Homo sapiens: one gene and its partners. The protein of the gene in region 1 interacts with the protein of each later gene in a biochemical or structural test. Each region holds a gene or a part of one and is shown in the gene's direction. Other genes may lie near its edges.

Region 1 (5,085 bases):
GCAGCGCTTCCCAGCAGCACTTAGCTCACTGCCTTGTGTCTAAGCAGTAAGTGAGGATACTACTCCAAAGCCAACCTCTGTTCCCATGCAGCACTTTACACTTGATGACACACTCTCAGCCACTCTTCAATTTGATCCCCACAACAAACCCTGTGAGATAGGTGACCTTATTCTACAGATGAACAAACTAAGGCTGAAAGAGGAGGAATGACTCCCAGAAAGTCAGGCACTTGAAAAAGCAGGGCAGTTGCCATTGAAGTGAACAGAGGAGTTCAATAGCTCCCCTTATCCAAGGTACCAATGTGCTGTGATAAAGCACTTGATGTGCACCTCATCTAATCCTCCAGCCACTCCAGTGAGATAGTATGAATCCCGTTTGCACAGATGAGTAAACTGAGGCTGCAAGAGTTAAAGTGAATGGTCTAAAATTACTTACACAGGTAGCCACTGGGAAAGGCAGAACGCCAGAACAGGTGGATATGAGTCCCAAGCCACTGTGCTCACTCACCGTGCTAATTCTGCCTCCCTGCAGCTGCTGTGGCTGATAAGGAGGAGGAGGAGAATGATGTTAGCAGTGACAGTAGTAAACATGTAAGAGGGCTTACACCCTGCCAAGTACGGTTCTAAGAGCTTTTGGGGTTTTGTTTTGGCTTCTTTTTTTTTTTTTTTTTTTTTTTTTGACAAGGTCTTGCTCTTTTGCCAAGGCTGGAATGCAGTGGTGTGATCAAGGCTCACTGCAGCCGCAAACTCTTGGACTCAAGCGATCCTCCTGCTTCAGCCTCCCTAGTAGCTGGGACTACAGGCACACACCACCATGCCCAGCTAATTTTTGTGTTTTTTGTAGAGACTGGATTTCGCCATGTTGCCCAGGCTGGTCTTGAACTCCAGGGCTCACGTAATCCACCCGCCTTGGCCTCCCAAAGTGCTGGGATTCTAAGAACTTTTCATGGTTCACTCATTTAATGGTCACCACAACCCAGTGAAGAGGGAGCAGTATTATCCCCAATTTACAGAAGAGAAAACTGAGGCACAGACAATTAAGAAGGTGCCCAAGTTTGTGCCCCTAATGAAGTGGAGAAACAAGTTTCAAGCCTAAGATTCCAATTCCGGCAGCCTAACTCCAGAAGCCACATTATGCTATCAATGCTGTGTGCATTCAACTGCGGCACCTGTGTTTGGAAATTTCATACCTAAATTCCTAATTGTTTTTACAAAAAGCTAAATATTTAAATAGCAGCTCGTCGATGAATGCTAAATGTTTTGTGTGGTCTCTGTGTTTGCGCTTGCAATTCAATACTGACTCGTTTCCAAGCAGCACGGTGGAGATGTTTCCACATTTAGCCTCCTTGCCTGGGAAGTGAAGGTTGAATCACTCGGGAAATGTATGTCACCTGTTCTGTAAGTCCACGCGCTGCGGCCTATTCTTTGACAAGCTGTGCCCCCTGCTGGTCTCTTCGCAGAGTTGTAACGATGTGGTTCAGGAGCGATTTGGGCCGGAGCTGAAATATGACATAGCCCTGCGGCTGGCCGCATTACAAATGTACATTGCAACCGTTACCACCAAGCAAACGCAGAAAATCTCCCTCAAATACATCGAGTAAGTGTTGACTCTCAGCGCCATTTCGGAGACAGACATGCCGCCTCCCTTAGCCCGGGTGTATTTTTGTTATTTGTCCAAAATTGATCTTGTTTGTGTCAAAGCATTCATTCGCCAGTGGCAAAATGTATGAATATCATGCTCATTTCTGGCAGAAGAGATCCATTTCTAATCCACCTTTAGAGCATTGTAGTTAAGATGAGGGACATATTTAAAACGAAGCATAAATTTTTGAATTCCTAAAGGGGCTTGATTCCAAGCCAAGCTTTGGTCTTAGCACTTTTCACACATTAATTTGTTTAATTCTCACAACACCCCTATGAGATTAGTAGGATTTTAGCTTCATTTTACAGACGAGCAAACCGAGTCATAGAATAACTTGCCCAAGTCAAATGGCTATTAACGCGGGGATATAGGATTCAAACCCAGGCAGTGGGACTCCCCGTTGTGCTATAGATTGTGTGATGGGTTGAGGCACCTGTGTTTGGAAACACATGTAATGCTAAAGCCTTGGACCTCCCCCCACACCCTGCTTACAATCTCACCTCCAAAAGATGTATAAACTAATTAAAATCCCACTTTCCAAAGAAACTTCTCATGGGCTGCCTAGAAAGCCTTTCTAAATTCCACAATGCCAGGTTCACCCACCAGGGGGCAAAATGGCTTTTCTCAATAAATTCATGAGCCTGTGTTGGGAAGGATTAAATCTCCAACTTGCTGACTTCAACACCACTGTTCTGACAACTCTCAGTCACCTGTTGACATGTAGGGACAAATCCTCATATGCAATTTGAGAACCTCAGGCCTTCAGTTCACTCCTTCCAGATGCTTTCTCTCTCTCCCCACACATAAGCGTGACTGTAGCCTGAGAAAGACTTGGCTCACAAAGAGATCTCGTGCTCAGCTGGACACATTCACACACTCTTCCACTCTCCTTTTTAAAGTTCTTGGGGACAGGTGAAACTGGCTGCCATTTGAAAAGGTGGCCTGCACAACCGGAGTTGATTTTCAGACAATTAAAATGCATTTCTTTTCCTACTTTGTGTACCCACATTTTACCAGGTTGAACATTGTATGGTCAAAAACGTCTCAGAGATATCTGGCTTGAGTAAGAATCCTGAAAAGTCTGTAATAATGTTCTCATTCATAAATTCCTTTGACCAACAAATATTCATTGAGCATTTTATATAGCACTCACATTAGGATAGTAGAAAATACTAATATGTATGAATTATATTCCTGGCCATTGAGGAACTTGTGGTCTGATTGTAAAAACAAGATATAAAGATAGGAAAAGTAATTATTTAAAATAATGATACAAGTAGGATTACAAGAAAGCCCATAAGTAGTGCCAAATGATGGATAAGACAATAAGTACAAGTTGAGAAGGAAGAAAACATAATGATCATGAAATATACCATCTTAACTAGTGAAGAATATGAATGGTCAAGTGGTGGGGGTAGGTTGTCTTCCTACCCTTCTTTGGAGAGGACCTAGAACAGGAGAAATAACTGGAATCCTCTTGAAGGTCTTCACATAATTTAGAAGACACTGGTTAGACACATAACCTAGGGTAGGATTTCTACTCCAGGATAGATTTCCTAGAATTCAAAATATGGGACCTTCTTAGAAGGGGGTGGTAGTCGTTTCTGGTGAAATTGGCTCTTTGTAAAAATGTATTAACTCAGTCCCATTTGTTGTTGTTTTGTTGTACATCCACGTCCATGAATGAGAACAGCATCTCCACATCAATACTGGGCACACTTAAGAGTCATGAATCACACCCAATTCCACACCACCAGCAAGAAATGTTGATGGAGGGAGTTAGACAGGAACTGGCTGGGACAAAAGAACTGTGTGTGCCTAGAGAAATAGCCATGGAGGAGGGGAGGGACAGGGAAGAATGGTTTGGGGACATGAAGGACTTGCATCCATTCTTCTAAGAGAGGAAGAATATGAGCAGACAGGGAGATTGGAGAATAGAAATCAACAAAGGGATGGAGAGAAATTGGTGTTGGAAATACAAACTCGGATACGTGAGTGACTTTGAAGAGATTCAGAAGTTGGTTGGACAAAATGTCTCTTCACTTTACATTGGCTCCAAATGCCTCCTTAGCATTGTCTCTAGAGAATGAGGAACAGATTTCTTTTTAAATGCAAACATGTGTATTAATGATCAAGTAGTGTGTGTCCTGAGTGTAAATTAAAAGTTACTTCCTTTGGGGACTTGTCTCCATTCTCTGCCTCACCAAGGGTTCATTTGTTCCAACAAACATCAGAGCACCATTTTGTCTTAGATAACTCATCATCACAGAAATGTGAAATTAAAGATATGCTCTTTATTGCAGAAAAGAATGGGGATTAGAGACTTTTCTTCCCTCTGCTGTGCTGCAAAGCATGAAAGAGAAGAACATAAAGAAAGCACTTTCACACCTTGTCAAAGCAAATCAAAACTTGGTACCACCGGGTAAAAAGGTATCACATTTCCATCTTAAAAGAAAATTATAAAGAGAGAGGCTTGAATGCATTTTTTAAATGTTTAAAATTAGCTCATGAATAAAATACTTAGTACCATATTTTCAGAAGCAGTAACACTGTGTAACTTTTTTCTAACTATTAACATGTTTCTAACACTAATGAAAAATAAGTATTCATATAGAAACCTATTTCTTTCTCACAAGTTATGGACTCCGTACTGTAGCAGGGAGGTATGTGTTCATGTGCCCATCCAGGAAAAGTTTGCGTAGCCTCTGAGACCTTGTGGATAGAAGATAGAATTGTGAAATCATTCTATGTTTCAATCATGCAATTGCTTACTGCTCAGACCAGCTTCAATGCACAACAGCCAGCAAGAGGCCCTGCAGGCCAGAGGCCACATTAATTAAACCAGGGATCCTCAACTGTGGCGTAATTGACATTTGGGAACAGATCATTCTTTGTTAGGGAGTTACGGGGAACATCCTGTGTATTCTGGGATGTTTAGCGGCACCCCTGGTCTCTACCCACAAGATGCCAGTAGCACCCTCCCGTGATCGTGACAAACAAAAATGTCTCCAGACATTGCCAAATGTGCTCCCGGGAACAAAATCACCCCTATTGACAAACAATGGATTCAATCCTACCTTTGGAGGGAAGATAAAATTATTGCTGTCATTCACCATCATTAGTGTTAAAATCTTTTTATGCTTTTGTTTTTGTTTTCATTAAGTAAGAGAAACACAAAGGAAATTTTAAAATATACTGTTGGTCAGAAAAGAGAGGTATAGTTTATAGGTAATAAAAAGCAAAGGATTCCAGGAACCAGAAAGAGAAGGAGCCTTAAAATACTGGATCTATAAAATTGGAAGCAGTCTTATAACTGAAGAACACTTTCCAATTGATATTAGCTGGAGAAATTTGTGTGACTCTAATACAAATCACTGTTTACGTGGAGAACCATTTTGTCTTAGTATCTGATTTTTTTAAGTCATTTTTACTGGGTAAGGTAC
Region 2 (5,827 bases), on another chromosome or scaffold:
CTGCTCATGGGTTGCAATTACAATTAAGAATTGAACTCTGACCCTGCACGTGGGTTGGGAGGGTGGGACGTGGAGCCCAAGGGAGTGGCCCAGGGAGTCAGGCTTGCGTCTCTGCTGGGTGACCTTGGGCAAGACGCTTGCCCTCTTTGTGAAATGGGTCTGATAATGGCTCTGGGAGTGGGGATAGGGAGGGGCGGAGACCTGGCCTGACTCACAGTAGTCATCTTGGGTGTCGAGCCCCTGGGCAGGGGCCCTGTGTGTGTGTGTGTGGGAAGGGGGGGGTGGTGTTCCAGGCGTGAGGATGCCCTGGGCACAGCCACTTGTCCCAGGAGCTGTCAGAATCTTAGACCCAGAGGAGCCCTGAGGTGTTCCCGTCCATTCCCTTGCCCCTTTCTAGGCCACCAGAGTAAGGCCTCGAGGGAGGGATGTCTCAGGCCCCATTCCTCTTGGGACAGCTGAGTGGTCTCTGAGGGTGGGAGCTGGTTTGAGGCTTCTTCCGCAGCTGGCTTGGGCTTCCCCATCTGGGAAATGGAGCAGGGGCAGGTGGGGAGCTGAGTCATTTCCCTCCTTGGTCACTCGGAGGGAGAAGAAGGAAGTTTCCTGAGAGCTTTTGGTCCCCTGGGAGGCTGTTTCTCCCAGGAGGAGGAGGAAACCAGGACACAGTGTGCCAGGCAGGGCAGGGTGGGGGCTGCAGACTTCTGCGATGCCCCTTCTTTCTCCACTGCAGCCCTAAGTTGAGGACACACCTGATTCTGCGTACTGGCTCCACCATCTGGTAGTTCTGTAATTAAGCAAGTGACCACCCCTCTGTGCCTCAGTTCCTTCATCTGTAAAATGGAGCCAATGAGCTTATCCACCACAGATGGCCGCAGTGGTAATGAAATAATTCTAGCTGGGTCCATAGCACAGAGCTCAGAACATATTGAGTGCTCCGCCTGGCTGTTTTACCAGCCAAGTCAAGTGCTAAGCACTTTAGGTAGACTCATCTCATTTAATCCTTGCTACAGCCCCATGAGTGTAGTGATTTCTACTGACAACAGGGAAACAGAGGCACTGAGTGGTGAAGTGACCTGTCCCACAGCTAGTCAGTTGAGGTGGGATTCAAACCCAGGGCAGACTGATGTCGGTGAGTGCTGGGCTGGATTTCACCCACCAGCTGCCTGGGGCCAGGATCCTAGGGCTGGTGGGGCCTGCAGATCACTCTGCTCTGAGCCGCCAGCAATCTGGGTGCGGGCCAGAGAGCCGTCCTCCTCGGTTAGAATCCTGCAGCCAGTCTCCCTGCTGTGCAGACACATAATTATATTTCACATTAAAGGGGAAGCTGGAGGCCAAGGGGGCCAAGGAGCCCTTTGAGGCTCATGCTCTGGGCACAGACTGGCCTCCTCGGCCCAATTCTGAGGCCCTAGGGCCGAGCTGGGGGTCAGACTGGTGACAAAATGGAGTTCCCCTGGGTCAGTGTCCAGGCGAGCAGGTCTGTCTGCCAGGATGAAAGACTTGGCCCCTGCGGGAGGCTCAGAGATATGAGGCCCAGACAATAGGCCTCAGAAAGCTGGGAGGGCAGGGCATTTGGGGACAGGTTGGGAAGAAAGCCTGAGCCTCCAGAGACAGGGGCTCGAAAGAGAAGGGGGTCACATGGGGATCCGGTCGGCAGAGAGAGGTCCAGGGAGGAGCACAGAGAAGGCAGGAGATGGGAGAAGCCAAGCAGCTCAAGATGGAGAGGAGAAAAATGCTATTAGGGTGGGATGGTGTGTGTAGAGGGTGCGTGCCTGGTGTGCAGGGGAAAAGGGCTCTGTGGGAATGCACAAGCTTAGACCTGTGTGTGCGTATGCACACGTGCAGATGCCATCCTGCATGTGCACATATGAGCGAGTGTGCACATGTGCCCCTGCGAACATCATGCATGTGGGGGCATGTATCCTGCATGTTTATGCCTGTGTGTGTGCTCGCCATGCACCTGTGCGTGCGCGCGTGTCCCCGGCGGACGTGCCTGCATGTGTGTGTATGTGTGTGTGCGCGCATGTCCCCGGGAAGTCGTGCCTGTGTGTGTGTGTGTGTGTGTGTGTGTGTGTGTGTATATATATATGTGTGTGTGCGCGCGCGCGTCCCAGTGCGCAAGTGGCTGGCGGTGTGTGTGTAGGGGGCGGCCCGGGACTAGGAGGGGCTCGGGGCCAGGCCGGAGCCGTGGTAGGCTGGTGCAGCGGCTGCGCGGCGCGGCGCGGCGCGGGGCGGGCGTGCTCTCCGCGGAGAGTTAGAGGAGTTGCCGAGCTGAGCTCCGGTGGAGCGAGGCGCGGAGCTGGGTGCGCGCCGAGCCTCTGCCTCCCGCCGCCTCCTCGCCCTCCATTCCTCGCTCCCCGTCTTCTCCCGGCCACACCGCCACTGCTGCCGCCTCCCTGGGAACAGTAGCCGGGGGAGGGGGACTGGCGCGGTCAGAGCCTGCGAGGAGGTGCGGGGCGCCGGGGCGTAGGGGAGCGCGCCGGGCCCTGCCCGAGATCAGATAACAGCCGGCGGGGGAGGGGGTGGGCCGGCCGTGCTCACAGCCGGACCGAGGGACCGACGCCAGCCGCCCCGGCCCAAGCGAGCGCCCAGCGGCCGGGGGCGCCGTCCAGGCGCGCGCCCCCGACCCGTGGCTGGACCAGGGCGATCCGCTTTGCAGAGAAGACGCGCCCCTCGGCATGGAGCGCCCCCGGGAGCTGCCCTGAGGCGGTGGCGGCAGCGGCGGCGATGCAGCCAGCGCGGCAGCTGCCGGGGCCAGGAACGGCCGCCCGGAGCTTGGAGGACGCCGAGCGCGCCGCGCCCGGGCCACTGACCGAGGTAAGTGCGCGGCCGCGGGCGCATGGTCCCTCCCGGGCCCGGCCCCAGTTCCCCGCAGGCCGCGCCTCGCCACTAGCCCGGCCCGGAGCTAGCACGAGGTTGTGCAGCAACAGGGAAGGTGGAGCGGGAGGGTGTTTTCTTCCTCTCGTTTTATTTTTTTCCCTCCCTTGGTGAGACATCGGAGGAAATGCTGACTGCGAGCTTTTCTTTTCCTGCCATGTCTCCGGCTACCACCACAAGGAACTTTGCTCCTGGCTAACCTTCGTCCTGGGGGGCGCTCCGGGAAACTTTGAGGAGCCCTCGGCCCCCCTCTGACTGGTTTGCACTAGGGGGCTCGGGAGGGAGCGTGCGGAAGCACTCTGGCGCGCGGCACGGGTCCTACGCGTGACCTTCCCGGAGACCCCGCGATCGAGGTGGGGTTCGGAGGTGGGCGCCCGGGCTATATGAGCCGCCCCGAGAATGCCTCCCGTCAGAGACCTGCGGGTTCTTGGAGTCGTGTCTCTTTCTCACCTCCCGTGCTGTAATGGAGTAAAAATATTCTGGAAATGATTCCATGCCAGCAAGTCAGCCAAGTCCAGAGGCTCCCTTTTGCTTTTAGAAGTCGGCCTTGATCTCCGAGGGGATGGCCGCTGGCTGAGAAGCTCCCAGGGTTTCAGGGCCAGGGTCCACCCTGCGCGCGCACGGCCTCTCCGGGTGCCCTGGGGGAGCGGGGCGGGAATCAGGGGCTCATGGGCAGAGACAGCTGGGGTGGGGCGCTCCTTGGGGGGTTCAGATGGGAGTTGAGGCCCAAGCGAGTGTCTGTGCCTCGGTTTTGATCCAGCGTGCCCATGTCATGTGAATATTTTAAAACCTGTGATCAGAATGGGGGTCAAAGTGTTTCTTTGGGGACGGTCTTGTTCTGGGAGGTTTTCCTGCCTCCTCACAGCCTGGACTCGCCCGCACCTGGGACCTCCCCCTCCCCATTTCCCAGGGGGCGTTCCCATCTTAGAGTACCGCGCTGCCTGTGGCCATTTCTAGTTTCTTTTTTGCTCCCCTATACCCAGGTTCGAGCCCTGCAATAAAGCGCTGGGGACCTCCTGGCTCCCACATCTGCGCCCCAAACCCAGGTTCACAGGCTCCGTCTCCGAGAGCGCCGAGGCGCCCACACGCCACTGAAATCGGCAGCCGCCTTTGGAAGGTGCGAACCCGGAAGGCGTTAGCCTTGGGCCTAGCCTTCGCCCCCTCTGAGATGCCAAAGGAGAGCCGGTCCCTGGCCGCGCGGCTGGACCCCAGCCTCCCTCGCGCTGCGCTGCACCTCCGCGGCCCCTCCTCGCGCAGCTCCGCCCTGGACCGCCGCCCTGTGGCGGGCGAGGGTCAGAGAGGGGAGGTCCATCTCAGCCCTGGGCGCCACCAGAGGCTTTCGCTCTTTTTGAGGGGTACTCCCTTCTGTATTCTGAGAAGAGCCCCTCAGTGTCTGCTGGGACCGCCCCCCCCAACAAAAGACTTCACAGCGAAGTCTGCCCCTCAGTTCTCTGGTGGCACCTCCAACCAGACAGGGGACCCGAGGTTGGCAGCTCTAGGAGGGGGACCCTGGGGGCCTGCCATTTGGTGGGGCCAAGCCGCCTGAGAGAGAGCAGGGAGTGAGGGCGGAGGGCACTCACTCGAGCACCCTGGAGACGAGGAGGGTGGCTCCAGTGTGCTGGGCCACAGGGACACCCCTCTTCTCCACTGGAGGGCCGCTGTAGGCATACAGTAGGCAGTCTGTAAATGCTGGCTGTTGACCCAGAGCTGGCAGGTAGGGGCTCCAAGTCCTCTATCACCTCCTTTTTCCCCTCCCAGGGGAGGGCATGGCTGACACCCCTCATCCCCAGCACTGAAGGGGGTGGAGCCTTCTCTGGGAGGGGCAGGACCTGAGCTGTCAGTCCATCTCTGGACACTCCCCCTGCAGCTACCCCGTCAAAACCCCATAAGGTTTCCAGGCTGCCCCGGAGGGGACCCCTCCAGGAATGTGCCTCAACTGTGCTGGAAGGAAGAGGTGCCTGGGAAGTGGTGGAGGGGTATTGCCTAAAACCATGCAGTGGGTTGGGTTTGGACAGATGCCTTCACCTAGCTCTTTCCAGGCCAGGCGCTTACCCCACCAGCCTTCCTGCCCCAGGGCCATGGTGTCCCCATCCCTGGGTCTCCTTGAAGCAGGACAAAGTAACACTGAGTGGCCCTGCAACAGCAAAATAATAATGACAGCAGTGATAACAGGAGTAACAGCAGCAGCAGCACCTGCAGCTCTGCAGCACTGGGGCCGGTTCTGCCTATGGGCAGTTTTCTCTGCCTAGCCAGGCCTCCGGTACCCTGGGCCACAGTTGGCAGTACCAAGCGTGGCACCCGGAGGCCTTGGCATATGGCTGGGGCGGAAGTGAGTGCATCATTACTGTCATCAACCTCTGTGGCCCTCGCCAGGTCCCCAGGCAGAAGGCTACTGGTACACACGGTGCCCACCCAGTGGCCACCCTCACCCCCCCTGCTCCCAGGCCCAGCTCTGGGCTGGGCCCTTCCTCCAACAGGTGCAGCTGGTGCCTGTGGCTGGGCCCTGGCCAGGGCTTTACTGTGAGCGACACATGGGTACACCTGCCCCTCCCCGGGCCTGCCCTTGGAGCCCTGCCACCGGCTAGCGTGGAGGAGAGTCAGGGAGGGGGCAGCTTGCGGGCAGCAGGAGGGGTGGAGGCTTGGCTGGCCACATGGAAGGTGCGGTGGGTGGGGGCTCAGCCCCACGGGATGGCTGTGCCGGGAACTGGCAGCGTGATGGGGACACGGCAGCAGGGAAAGGCTGAAGATGAAAGAGAGCTGGCCTGAAACTGGGCCGTGTGCAGGTTGGCCAGAGCTTCAGAGGCACCATGGGGTTGGGGGTGGGGGGGGGCCTGGCAGAGGCAGGTGGGTTTTCTGAGGTGCTGGGCTCGGGGCAGGACCAGAGCCCCCGCTGGGCACTGGCCAAGGACCCAGCCCTGGGTCAGCTGACTTAATTTCCTAATGGCCTGCCAGTGCA
Region 3 (5,085 bases), about 38 Mb from region 1:
TTCATGGGTGAAGCTTGGTAGAAAGACTGTCTGAAAAGGGTGTCTCCTTTTGTTCTTGCAGTGTCAGTTGGCAGTCATCCCACTTGGAACCGGCAATGATCTGGCTCGTGTTCTGGGCTGGGGTGCATTCTGGAACAAAAGCAAGTCACCTCTGGACATCCTCAACAGAGTGGAGCAGGCTAGTGTGAGGATCCTAGACAGGTAAGTGGCTGAAAGACCAGGCCCTTGTGCCTCTTCCTGTCCCACATCACTCACATCATCTCAATCAGGAATACTTTAACCTCTCTGATTGATAGAGCCTCATTTCCTTTCTGGCTTCAGTGCAGAGCCATTTGTGGGTTGGGTGGGGCTTGTCTCTTGGGAAGCCAGGGTCTACCATGTATCCTTCAAACATTGAAGCCCCTCTTCAAAACTAAAGGATCCTACTGGGAAGTTAAGGCTGCAGTGGGCCATGATCATGCCAATGCATTCCAGTCTGGGCAACAGAATGAGACCCTGTCTCAAAAAAACCAAAACAAAACAAAAACAACAACAACAAAAACACCAAAAAAACTAGACGATTCTAGAGCAGGGGCCCCATGGATAACGTTCAAGGGTTCAGTGAACCCTCTTCAAATTGCAGAGCCAATGATCTGTTTAAGCATATTCTCTCTTGGGGAAAAGTCTATAATTTCATCAGATTTTCAAAGAAACTAAAAAAGGGATGGAGGGAGAGTTTAGAAATAACTTGCTTACATTGTCACTGCTCTAGAGAAGAGCAAGTACTACCATCCTATCTCCTGAGGAAAAAAAGACTTTCTATGCTGGTGTATATAGGAGCATTTGATTTATTGCTGCCCATAAGGATCTCCTGGGGAGCTTTTTAAAAACATCAACCTGAACCCCACCACAAAGATTCAGTAGGTCTTGGCAGGGCCCTGGAATGTGTATTGTACAAAAGCACCTCAGATGATCTTGATGGTTACCTCTGGTTAAGAAGCACTGCTCTCTGAGAACCCTGTAAAGGGAAGGCAATTCCTTCCATCACACTGGCCTACAGAAGTCATGAGACAGAGGTCCCTCTTATGGTCACCTTGAGATCAGGTGACCAGAGATTGCTTGGACACCCCCTACAACCCACCTCCCCCCACCACATAAACATTTTTACTTCTGTCTTCACCTTTGAAGCACTAATTTTTACCAGTCATGAAACAGACCCTTAAATATCCGTCTTTGAAATTCATTTCAGATGGAGTGTGATGATTCGTGAGACTCCCAGACAAACCCCGCTGCTAAAAGGACAGGTTGAAATGGATGTACCACGATTTGAGGTAACTACTGTTCAGCTGTAATTCAGACCAATATCTTTATTACTCAGTGAAATAATTGGCAAAACCCAGAGAGAAGCTTTTGCATTGTGCATGGATGAGGATGAGATCATTGAGAGTTGGTGACATGTCAGTCAGCAGCTATTTACCAAGAACTATGTTAAGCACTGGGGATATAATTCATTCACTCATTTACTTATTCATTCAAAATATTTATGGAGTAACTACTTTATGTGAGATATTATTCTAGGAGATGTTCTTATATGCTACTGGGTAAAGAAGAATGACATAGTCTACTTGAATAGATGGAAAAATAAATTGTTTTAATCAAGTAGTATGAGTGTTAGTATATAAGGAAGTAGAGGGGGTTGGGAACACATAGCAGGAAGATCTATCTCAGTCTGGGGAAATCAGGGAAAGCCGCTCAGAAGGAGTGCCATTTCACAAGATACTTGAGATCCAGAGGGAATTAACCAGGAGAATAAGAAAGGGGAGGGCTGTTCCACACAGATGGAACAGCGTGTATTGTTCCAAAGGCAAGGGAGAGCATGGAATATTCACGAAACTGAAGTACATTCATAATGGCTGAGGCGTAGGGGCCAGGAAGGGGGCATTCAGGGAGAGTGACTAAAGATGAGGCTAGAGAAGTAATCAGGGGCCAGGCCAGAAAGGGCCTGATAAACCACAGTAGGAAGTTTGGATTTCATCCTAAGAGCAATAAGAATTACAGAAGATTTTTTTCTTATCTTATTATGAAAATTTCTACATTGATGAAAGTTAAAATGGTAGCTCTACTACTAACATTTTCCTATGCGTGCTTTATCACATATCCAGTCATCTATCCAGTCTGCTATCTAAGAGAAGGGGTTTAAGTAGAGGAGTGCCATGGTATGTGGAGAAACAATTGAAGGAATAAAAGACTAGAGGCAAAGAGAAAAGCTAGGAGATGTTGTAATTGTCTAGGCAAGAGGTGATGGTGATTTGGACTGGTGAAGTGGTAGCAGGGATGAGTAGCAGTGGATACATTTGAGACATACTCAAAAAATAGAATTATCAAGTCTTGGTAGATGTTTGAATGTCAAGGGTGATAGAGAGGAAGGAGTAGAAGTTGTAATTAAGAGCACAGACTCAAGAGCCAGACTACCTGGAATTGAATCCTGGCTCTACAATTTATCATCTTTCCCTTCTCTGGGCTCAGCTTTCTCTTCTGTGAAATGGAGATAATAACAGTCTTTATCTCATAGGGTTGTTATGAGGATTATATGAAAAAATATACATGTAGCTTAGAACAGAGCCTGGCACATAGTCAGTACTATATAAGTGGGTGCTGTTATTATTGGTAGTAATATTATTAAAGAAGTTACATTCTGGAATTGGAAAGATGTAGATTCGAATCCAGCTTTATTCCTTACTAGCTATGTAATATGAGATTGTTTGTTCATTTGAAACATGAAAGAAATAGTACCTCCTTCATATGAGGTTTTGATTATTAAGAGAAAATGAAATACATCTAAATTTTTAGAATACGCATAGATCTAAGATCATCTCTGTTGACCTTCAACAAGAATTCTTTGATCATTATCATTTCCAGAGAGGCAGTTGAGTTGCGGGTAGAGTCAGTAAGAAACAATGAGGCTGCAGGGGATGAGGATGGGCAGCACACTGTGTTATTGTACTAAGATTCCAGGGCTAAGAACTCCTTTTGCCCCTAGGCTGCTGCCATCCAACACTTAGAATCTGCAGCCACCGAGTTGAACAAAATCCTGAAGGCCAAGTACCCCACAGAGATGATCATCGCAACCAGGTCAGTCTTCCTTTGGCTCTCATCCTTTGGGGCTGTTCCCAGGTCAGACATGGGGCTCATTTTGATAGCTGAGGGTGTTGAGGCCAAGGAAAATACATGTTTATGTTCCCAAATCAGATTTCTCCCAACTCAAACCCCCTGAATGGAAAGTTTAGGAAAGAAAGATGACATTGAGGTGAAGTCGTCTGCTGCTCCAAAAAGTCAAAATTGCAAGCCAGAGATTTGGGAAGAGAATTATAGTAGGGAAACACAACATTATAGACCATTTAGGAGCATAGCATAGCTCCCTATAGTATAGACACCTTGCTTTCCGTCTTTGACATTAAGAAAGGTCTCTGCAATATCTGCCTATAGCTGCTTTCTCATAACCTGAGGAACACATTCCCCCTTCTAAATATGTGGGTCATTTGTTTCTTCTGGGACTTCTTAGGGGGCTCCTGCCCAGTCGACTACACTCTCCTTTGAGAAAAACTTCCCACAGGGAGAGTCCTCCCAATATAATTGTTTGTACTAAATTAGCTGGGCCCTTGAAACATAGCTGATTGAACCTAGGTGAAAACCTGACCCAAGTTGGACCAAGTGAATTCTCTTTTCTGGAAATTCAGAATTAGTACTAAGAAATGCTGGTCAAGCTCTATTAGGTTCTTGACTTGGGAAGTGGTGTGACACTGAACTAAAGTGGGGATGGAACATATTTCACCATATGCACAGGAAAAAAAAAGCAGAGAGAAAAAGGCTGGGAGCAGAGGGTGAGAGAAAGAGGACAGATCAGGAAAGAGAGAGAGGAGGAGGATGGGGACTGATGACATAAGAGAGAAGGGCTCTGGGCCTCATGGTTCATGTAACATTGTGCCATCTATTTTATCTTTCCAGATTCTTGTGTTCAGCTGTGGAAGATTTTGTGGTTGATATTGTAAAGGCCTGGGGTCAGATAAAACAGAACAACACTGCAATAGTGTCTGTGATTTTGAAAGTAAGTTCCCATTCCTTTTGTCTTATACTCTTTGTGGAGCAGCCAGGGGCCCTTTTTAATAAAAAGCAAACATGCCTCTCACTGGGAATGGTAAAAGAAAGGAAAGGAGGGGCAGCTGTTAAGCCTCCCTGATGAGGAAGGTCTAACCTCATTGAACTTCCATCTTTTGCTAAATGAAGGATGGCGCTCTGCATGCATACACACATACCATGTACATGCCAAGCATCTGCCCACAACTAGACACAAGTGTACATCAAGCAGGTATGTGCATGGTTGTACACCAGAACATGCTTACAAGTATGTACATACGAATACACACTACAAATACATTCACATTTACCTCTCTAACAACAATAGCCAACATTTATATAGCACTTACTCTGTGTCAAGGACTGTTCTGTTTTTAATGTATTAATGTATTTATTCCTCACAACTACCCTAGAATATGGAGGCACAAAGCGGTTAAGAAACTTGCCTCAGATCGCAAACTATTAAGTGATGGAGCTAAGAATCAAGGCCTTAAATCATGCAGCAGATGTAGGTCCCCAAGCCTGTACACATACAAAGACACACACCAAGCACCCAAGCAGGGACACGTTCATATCCAGAGGAGCGTGCCCATGAAAATCCAGAAATATTTGTCTTTCCTCAAGTTTGCATGTTATACATTGTTTTATAGGCCCGTTTGACACAAGAAAGACTCAGCTATATACACTGATGCATGGGGCCACTCAGAAACAAATGATATGTGTTTGATCTCCTAACACCCTTTGGTTATCTCATCACATCTTCCCACCTACTTCTTTTGCTAAGTACTTCATCTTCTCACATGTGGTTTTCTATGCTCAGCATTTATGGACAACTCTTACCCCTCCCTACCCTTCCCCATATCACCACCACTCCTCATTCTGTCCTCTCAAGCATGGGTCCCTCATAACAATGCCCTGTCTCCTTCCTTTCTATATAGAGTGACTTAATGTATGATAGGCTCAGTGTCCTGA
Region 4 (5,085 bases), on another chromosome or scaffold:
TACCCAGTAGTGGGATTGCTGGATCAAATGGTAGTTCTACTTTTAGTTCTTTAAGGGATCTCCACACTGTTTTCCATAGTGGCTGTTAGACAGTCATAACAGATTTTTTTAACTGCCATCCTCACGTTCTCCACCTACCTACCCACTCTGCAGGACAGTGGCCATGGCTTTGCAGAAGTGTACACTAACCTTGGGTAGGGCATGGAGGCAGAAAGCTCTGCTGGACCCCCTTGCAAGGTGAATTAGTATCTGGTTCAGTATTCTTTGTAAAATCAGACTCTCAACTAAATCAATGTCCTTGACTGACTGGCTGAAATAGGGCTTCAGGGTGTCTCATTCTACCACTGTACAGAGGGCACATGCAATGTGCAAAAAATAAAAACAAAAACAGACCTCTGTCCCCACCAGCTTTTAACACTTACTCTTTTCTTTCAAGTAATATATCCACATGGTTGAAAAAAAGTCTAACACTGTAAGAGGGCACAGTGAAAAGTAAGTCACCCTCCCACTCCAGAATATTAATCCCGCAAATATACTCCCCAATGACAATTTTATAGTTCCAAAGAGACTTTATGCTTACTGGAGCATATATACATATAATGCCCCCACGCCCCCACACTTTTACACAATGATAACATAATGCACCCTCTATCCTGTTCCTTGACAATTTCACTTAACAATGTGACCTGGAGAGCTTCCACATCAAAACCAAAAGCAATACCTTGTTTGCAAGGCCTGCCTAATATTCCATTATAACGCTGTGCCATCTGCTATTGATGGTCATTTAGGTTGTTTCTGGTATTTTACTAAGGGTGCTTCAGTAAATCACTTTGTATGAAGTATGTGAATCCATGCAACTCGATCTCTCTTGATTTTTATTTGCAAGCTTATGTTGTATAACTTTCTGACAACACAAGAAATTGGCCAGGAGACAAAAGAAATTCTGTAGAAATATAGAGGCTTTTTTGGAGCTTGTGTGCACATCAGATGTTTCTTCAGATACCTTTTTGGTTCCTGTGTCTCATTGTTTCTCATGTTGTTTTGGGCTATGTCCTGAAGCCTCTTTTTGGGTCATTTTTCCAGGTGCCCAGTGAGTGATGGATGGATACTGTTTGCAAGATTGATTCACATGGCACTTTTGTTTGGCTTTTGACAGGTTGTTTATAAGAATAATGACATCCGTCTGGAGCTGTCTCGCCTGGCCCGGATTGCGGACACCAAGATGAAAATCTATGGCGAAGTTGTGTTTAAGTGTGAGAATGTGGCCACACTGGACCCCATCAACTTTGAGACCCCAGAGGCTTACATCAGCTTGCCCAAGTGGAACACTAAACGTATGGGCTCCATCTCCTTTGACTTCCGCACCACAGAGCCCAATGGCCTGATCCTCTTCACTCATGGAAAGCCCCAAGAGAGGAAGGATGCTCGGAGCCAGAAGAATACAAAAGTAGACTTCTTTGCCGTGGAACTCCTCGATGGCAACCTGTACTTGCTGCTTGACATGGGCTCTGGCACCATCAAAGTGAAAGCCACTCAGAAGAAAGCCAATGATGGGGAATGGTACCATGTGGACATTCAGCGAGATGGCAGATCAGGTAGGAAGAGGCAGGATGTGTGACTGAGACTAGACGAAAGCTGTAGCTTCTCAGTTTGTTTTTTGGCTTTATGTTTCTTAATTTTCACCCTTGCATGCTTGTTGATTCTTTTGCTACTCTCTTTAATGGCTGTTGTAAAATTATGTTTCTGAAAAGATACCTGTCTCATAGATGGCTCACATTCTCCGCTTATCTCTCTTGTCACTCACTGCGCAATTGTCTCAGTGATAGCTCTACGATCCTGGAGCTAAGGATGGTTTTACAAGTAGCATTTCCACTGCTACCAGAGCAACTCTCATGTCACTGGTGTGATCCGCCCCCATTGCCCCATTCTTTGCTTCTCTTTTTCCTCATCACCATGGAAACCGATTGTGACATCACAGATGCTGCATTATGTGATTATTTTGTAGGATAAACTTCACTGTGCAAGAATTTATGCAACAATACACCCTTCAGTAATTGGCAAGAGTCATGTTGCATGGAGAAATTATGACAAGAAAGGAAAAGGCAAATTGATTTTTCCTGAAGATACATTCAATTTAAAGCCTTCCTTTGGTGTAAAAGCCTATATTTCACTCTTTGTTCAGACCTCACTAACTCTCTCTTCCTCTTCATAACCTTTTACATTTTGTTTAAATGGCTTTGTTTCTGCAGCTGCAGATCAAACAAGCTAGCCCCAGGCAGTACATAGCTACTATGGAATAGTAACAAAGTGGGGGTGGGGGTGGGGCAAAATAGTCAGGGGTTTTTGAATGCCTGGACAGTCTGCCTAGCTTTCTATGGACCATGTGGCAATGAAGGTCACATTCTGTGCTATCAGAAAGGGCATTTTCCCAAGAGCAGTAATTAGAGCATTTGCCATTTCAGACTCATTTCCTGATTCTCCATTTAGGTAGGATGTACTCAAGAAGGGTCTTGGCTTCATGTGCCATATTTATAGAGATTCACTTTCCTGATGAACATTAAAAAGTCTCTATTTGGATATTTTCTTTCTAGGTACATTTGGCCAGTAAGAGAGAGCAATAAGTTCCCCAAAAGGCTGAAACTGGGAGTGACTGAGCTTTGGTGGGTTGGCTTTTCTGCATAATTCCAAAGCTAGGCTGACGGCAGAGATAGCAATATTGCCCTTAGGAAGAGCTGGATGGGTTCTTTGCAGAGGGCAGATGGGTGGCAGATTGCAGCCCTGGCTATTTTATTGCCCAGTAGGAATCTTTACTGGTTGTCTGAAATCTGATCAGAACCAAGAGCCTTCAAATTAAATGTGCTCGTTAAGCAAGAATGAATAGTGTCTACCCTTTTACACAGAAAAACACCCAAAAAATTAATTTCTTTGGAGGCTAAATCCCGCCACACCCCCCATACTTCTTCTTCTTCTTTTCTTTCTCCTTCTCTGCTTTTCAGTAAAATGACAGCAAGAGCAGAGTCAGAAAGCTGTTCCAGAATTATAAAGAAAACACTGCTGTTGGTTTTTAAGAGCATGTGTTTGGGATCTCTGAGGTTAGGTCACGGTGGACGGGTTTTGTGTCTGACTAACCTAGACCTTGGCACAGCATAAAAGTTACCTTACCCGTGTCTCAGGCAGGCTAAAACACACAAAATTGCCATTTGTTCATTTCTGTCTGTTCCTAATACAAATTTTTCTTTCAAACAATTTTGAACAAAGGGGAACAGTTTTTGTTGTTTAAACCACCAGTGGACCCAACTTCAACAAATATGTTTGAATTTCAGAAGTCTTAAATTTCATACCTGGGAGCTAAAGCACTGGCTAATTCTTTTCTCTTTTTTTTTTTTTTTTTTTTTTTTGAGACAGAGTTTCTCTCTTGCTGCCCAGGCTGGAGTGCAATGGCGCAGTCTCGGCTCACTGCAAACTCTACCTTCCAGGTTCAAGTGATTCTCCTGCCTTACCTCCCAAGTAGCTGGGATTACAGGCACCCTCCACCAAGCCCAGCTAATTTTTGTCTATTTAGTAGAGACAGGGTTTCACCATGTTGGCCAGGCCAATCTCGAACTCCTGACCTCAGATGATCAACCCATCTCGGCCTCCCAAAGTGCTGGGATTACAGGAGTAAGCCACTGTGCCAGGCCTGGCCAGTTTTTTGAACTACTGATGAATTTGATCAAAGCCTATTAAAAACTTACTGAGTAAACAAACAATTGTCCCATGAAAGCAGTATAATCTAAAATTTTAATACAGTCTGTTAAACTTTCATTTTTTCATGAGAATGTTTTCTGGTAACTTGTTTTAGATTATAAATCTATACTAAAGGATAGTTATAAAAACAAGTGTATCTAAATGTGGTGCCTCCTTCCCTGATAATCTTGAAGAATAATATAACAAACAGTGATCTAGAAAAACTTTTATGATCACTCCTCACTTGGGCAAGTCAGTCTTAGAACTTGTTAAGTGCATTCAAAACTGTTATGGTCACACATTCAGAGAACAGATTTTCCTCAGGTTGTATTTAAGGCTCTAAAATTTAAATTGATTCTAGTATTGTCTTTACTTGGCAATAGATGTCTCCCCATTTTAGTTGGTGATCAGATTAGCCCTGTGGACCTGTGAGGGGTAAAGAAAGAAAACTATGCAACAGAGAAAATAGTAAGAGATAGAGACCTCAACTTCCTCCTTTGTAAGATAGAGAAAATAATAACTCCTACCTCCCAATATTGTTTTGAGGATCAAGTCCAAAAATGCACATAAAATAGTTAAAATGGTAGCCAGGACATTATTGTTGTTATATAAGTGTTTGAAAGATTGAAAAACAAAAGGCAAAGCATATTTCTCTAGGAGTAAACTTCTAGGAGGGAGTAGTGAAGCAGATTGTTAAATTCCCCTTAATATCCTTTCTATGCTTCTACTCTTGTGTTGACTTTGCACTTTATTTATTGTTTTTAACTTTAGTTAATTAATTAATTAAATTTCTTGAGAGCTAGTCTCACTCTGCCACCCAGCTTGGAGTGCAGTGGCACGATCTCAGCTCTCTGCAATCCCCACCTCCCGGGTCCAAGGAATTCTCCTGCCTCAACCTCTCGAGTAGCTGGGATTACAGGTGCCTGCCACCACACCTGGCTAATTTTTGTATTTTTAGTAAAGATGGGGTTTCACCATGTTGGCCAGGTTGGTCTTGAACTCCTGACCTCAAGTGATCTGCCCGCCTCAGCCTCCCAAAGTGCTGGGATTACAGGCGTGAGCCACCACACCCAGCCGACTTTGTACTTTAAAGTGTATGTTTCATTCTTGATCACGTCTGATCTTCGCAGCCCTTCAGGTTATATACCCTTCATAACTGAAGAAACTGAGAATCAGACAGAGGTGAAGGCTGACTGATGGATGGCATGACCCATTTATCTTGATACCAATAAAGCACATCAAGAATAATAAATACCTATTTTAAAATTTCTGACAGGAAGTTTAGATATCACCTAGTCCATTTCCTTAATTTTCCAGTTCGGGAAATTGAGCCATAAAGTGGTTCAGGGATTGGCCTAG

What was found. Proteins that work in one complex are often made in the same cells at the same time.
Region 2: the proteins of FRMPD4 (region 1) and KCNJ12 interact in a test that uses a peptide from one of them, tested with the Homo sapiens proteins (one large-scale study listed by IntAct).
Region 3: the proteins of FRMPD4 (region 1) and DGKK interact in a test that uses a peptide from one of them, tested with the Homo sapiens proteins (one large-scale study listed by IntAct).
Region 4: the proteins of FRMPD4 (region 1) and NRXN3 interact in a test that uses a peptide from one of them, tested with the Homo sapiens proteins (one large-scale study listed by IntAct).

What each region holds. Positions count from the first base shown.
Region 1 is NC_000023.11:12,700,414-12,705,498, forward strand, and holds part of FRMPD4 (FERM and PDZ domain-containing protein 4), read left to right. Parts: intron 1-1,460; coding exon 1,461-1,597; intron 1,598-3,945; coding exon 3,946-4,072; intron 4,073-5,085. UniProt on the Homo sapiens protein: Positive regulator of dendritic spine morphogenesis and density. Required for the maintenance of excitatory synaptic transmission. Binds phosphatidylinositol 4,5-bisphosphate.
Region 2 is NC_000017.11:21,374,103-21,379,929, forward strand, and holds the start of KCNJ12 (ATP-sensitive inward rectifier potassium channel 12), read left to right. Parts: upstream 1-2,254; 5' UTR 2,255-2,811; intron 2,812-2,817; exon of another isoform or gene 2,818-3,224; intron 3,225-5,827. UniProt on the Homo sapiens protein: Inward rectifying potassium channel that probably participates in controlling the resting membrane potential in electrically excitable cells. Probably participates in establishing action potential waveform and excitability of neuronal and muscle tissues.
Region 3 is NC_000023.11:50,386,553-50,391,637, reverse strand, and holds part of DGKK (diacylglycerol kinase kappa), read left to right. Parts: intron 1-61; coding exon 62-201; intron 202-1,228; coding exon 1,229-1,310; intron 1,311-3,019; coding exon 3,020-3,111; intron 3,112-3,984; coding exon 3,985-4,084; intron 4,085-5,051; coding exon 5,052-5,085. UniProt on the Homo sapiens protein: Diacylglycerol kinase that converts diacylglycerol/DAG into phosphatidic acid/phosphatidate/PA and regulates the respective levels of these two bioactive lipids.
Region 4 is NC_000014.9:78,708,061-78,713,145, forward strand, and holds part of NRXN3 (neurexin 3), read left to right. Parts: intron 1-721; exon of another isoform or gene 722-1,156; coding exon 1,157-1,595; exon of another isoform or gene 1,596-1,900; intron 1,901-5,085. UniProt on the Homo sapiens protein: Neuronal cell surface protein that may be involved in cell recognition and cell adhesion. May mediate intracellular signaling. Functions as part of a trans-synaptic complex by binding to cerebellins and postsynaptic GRID1.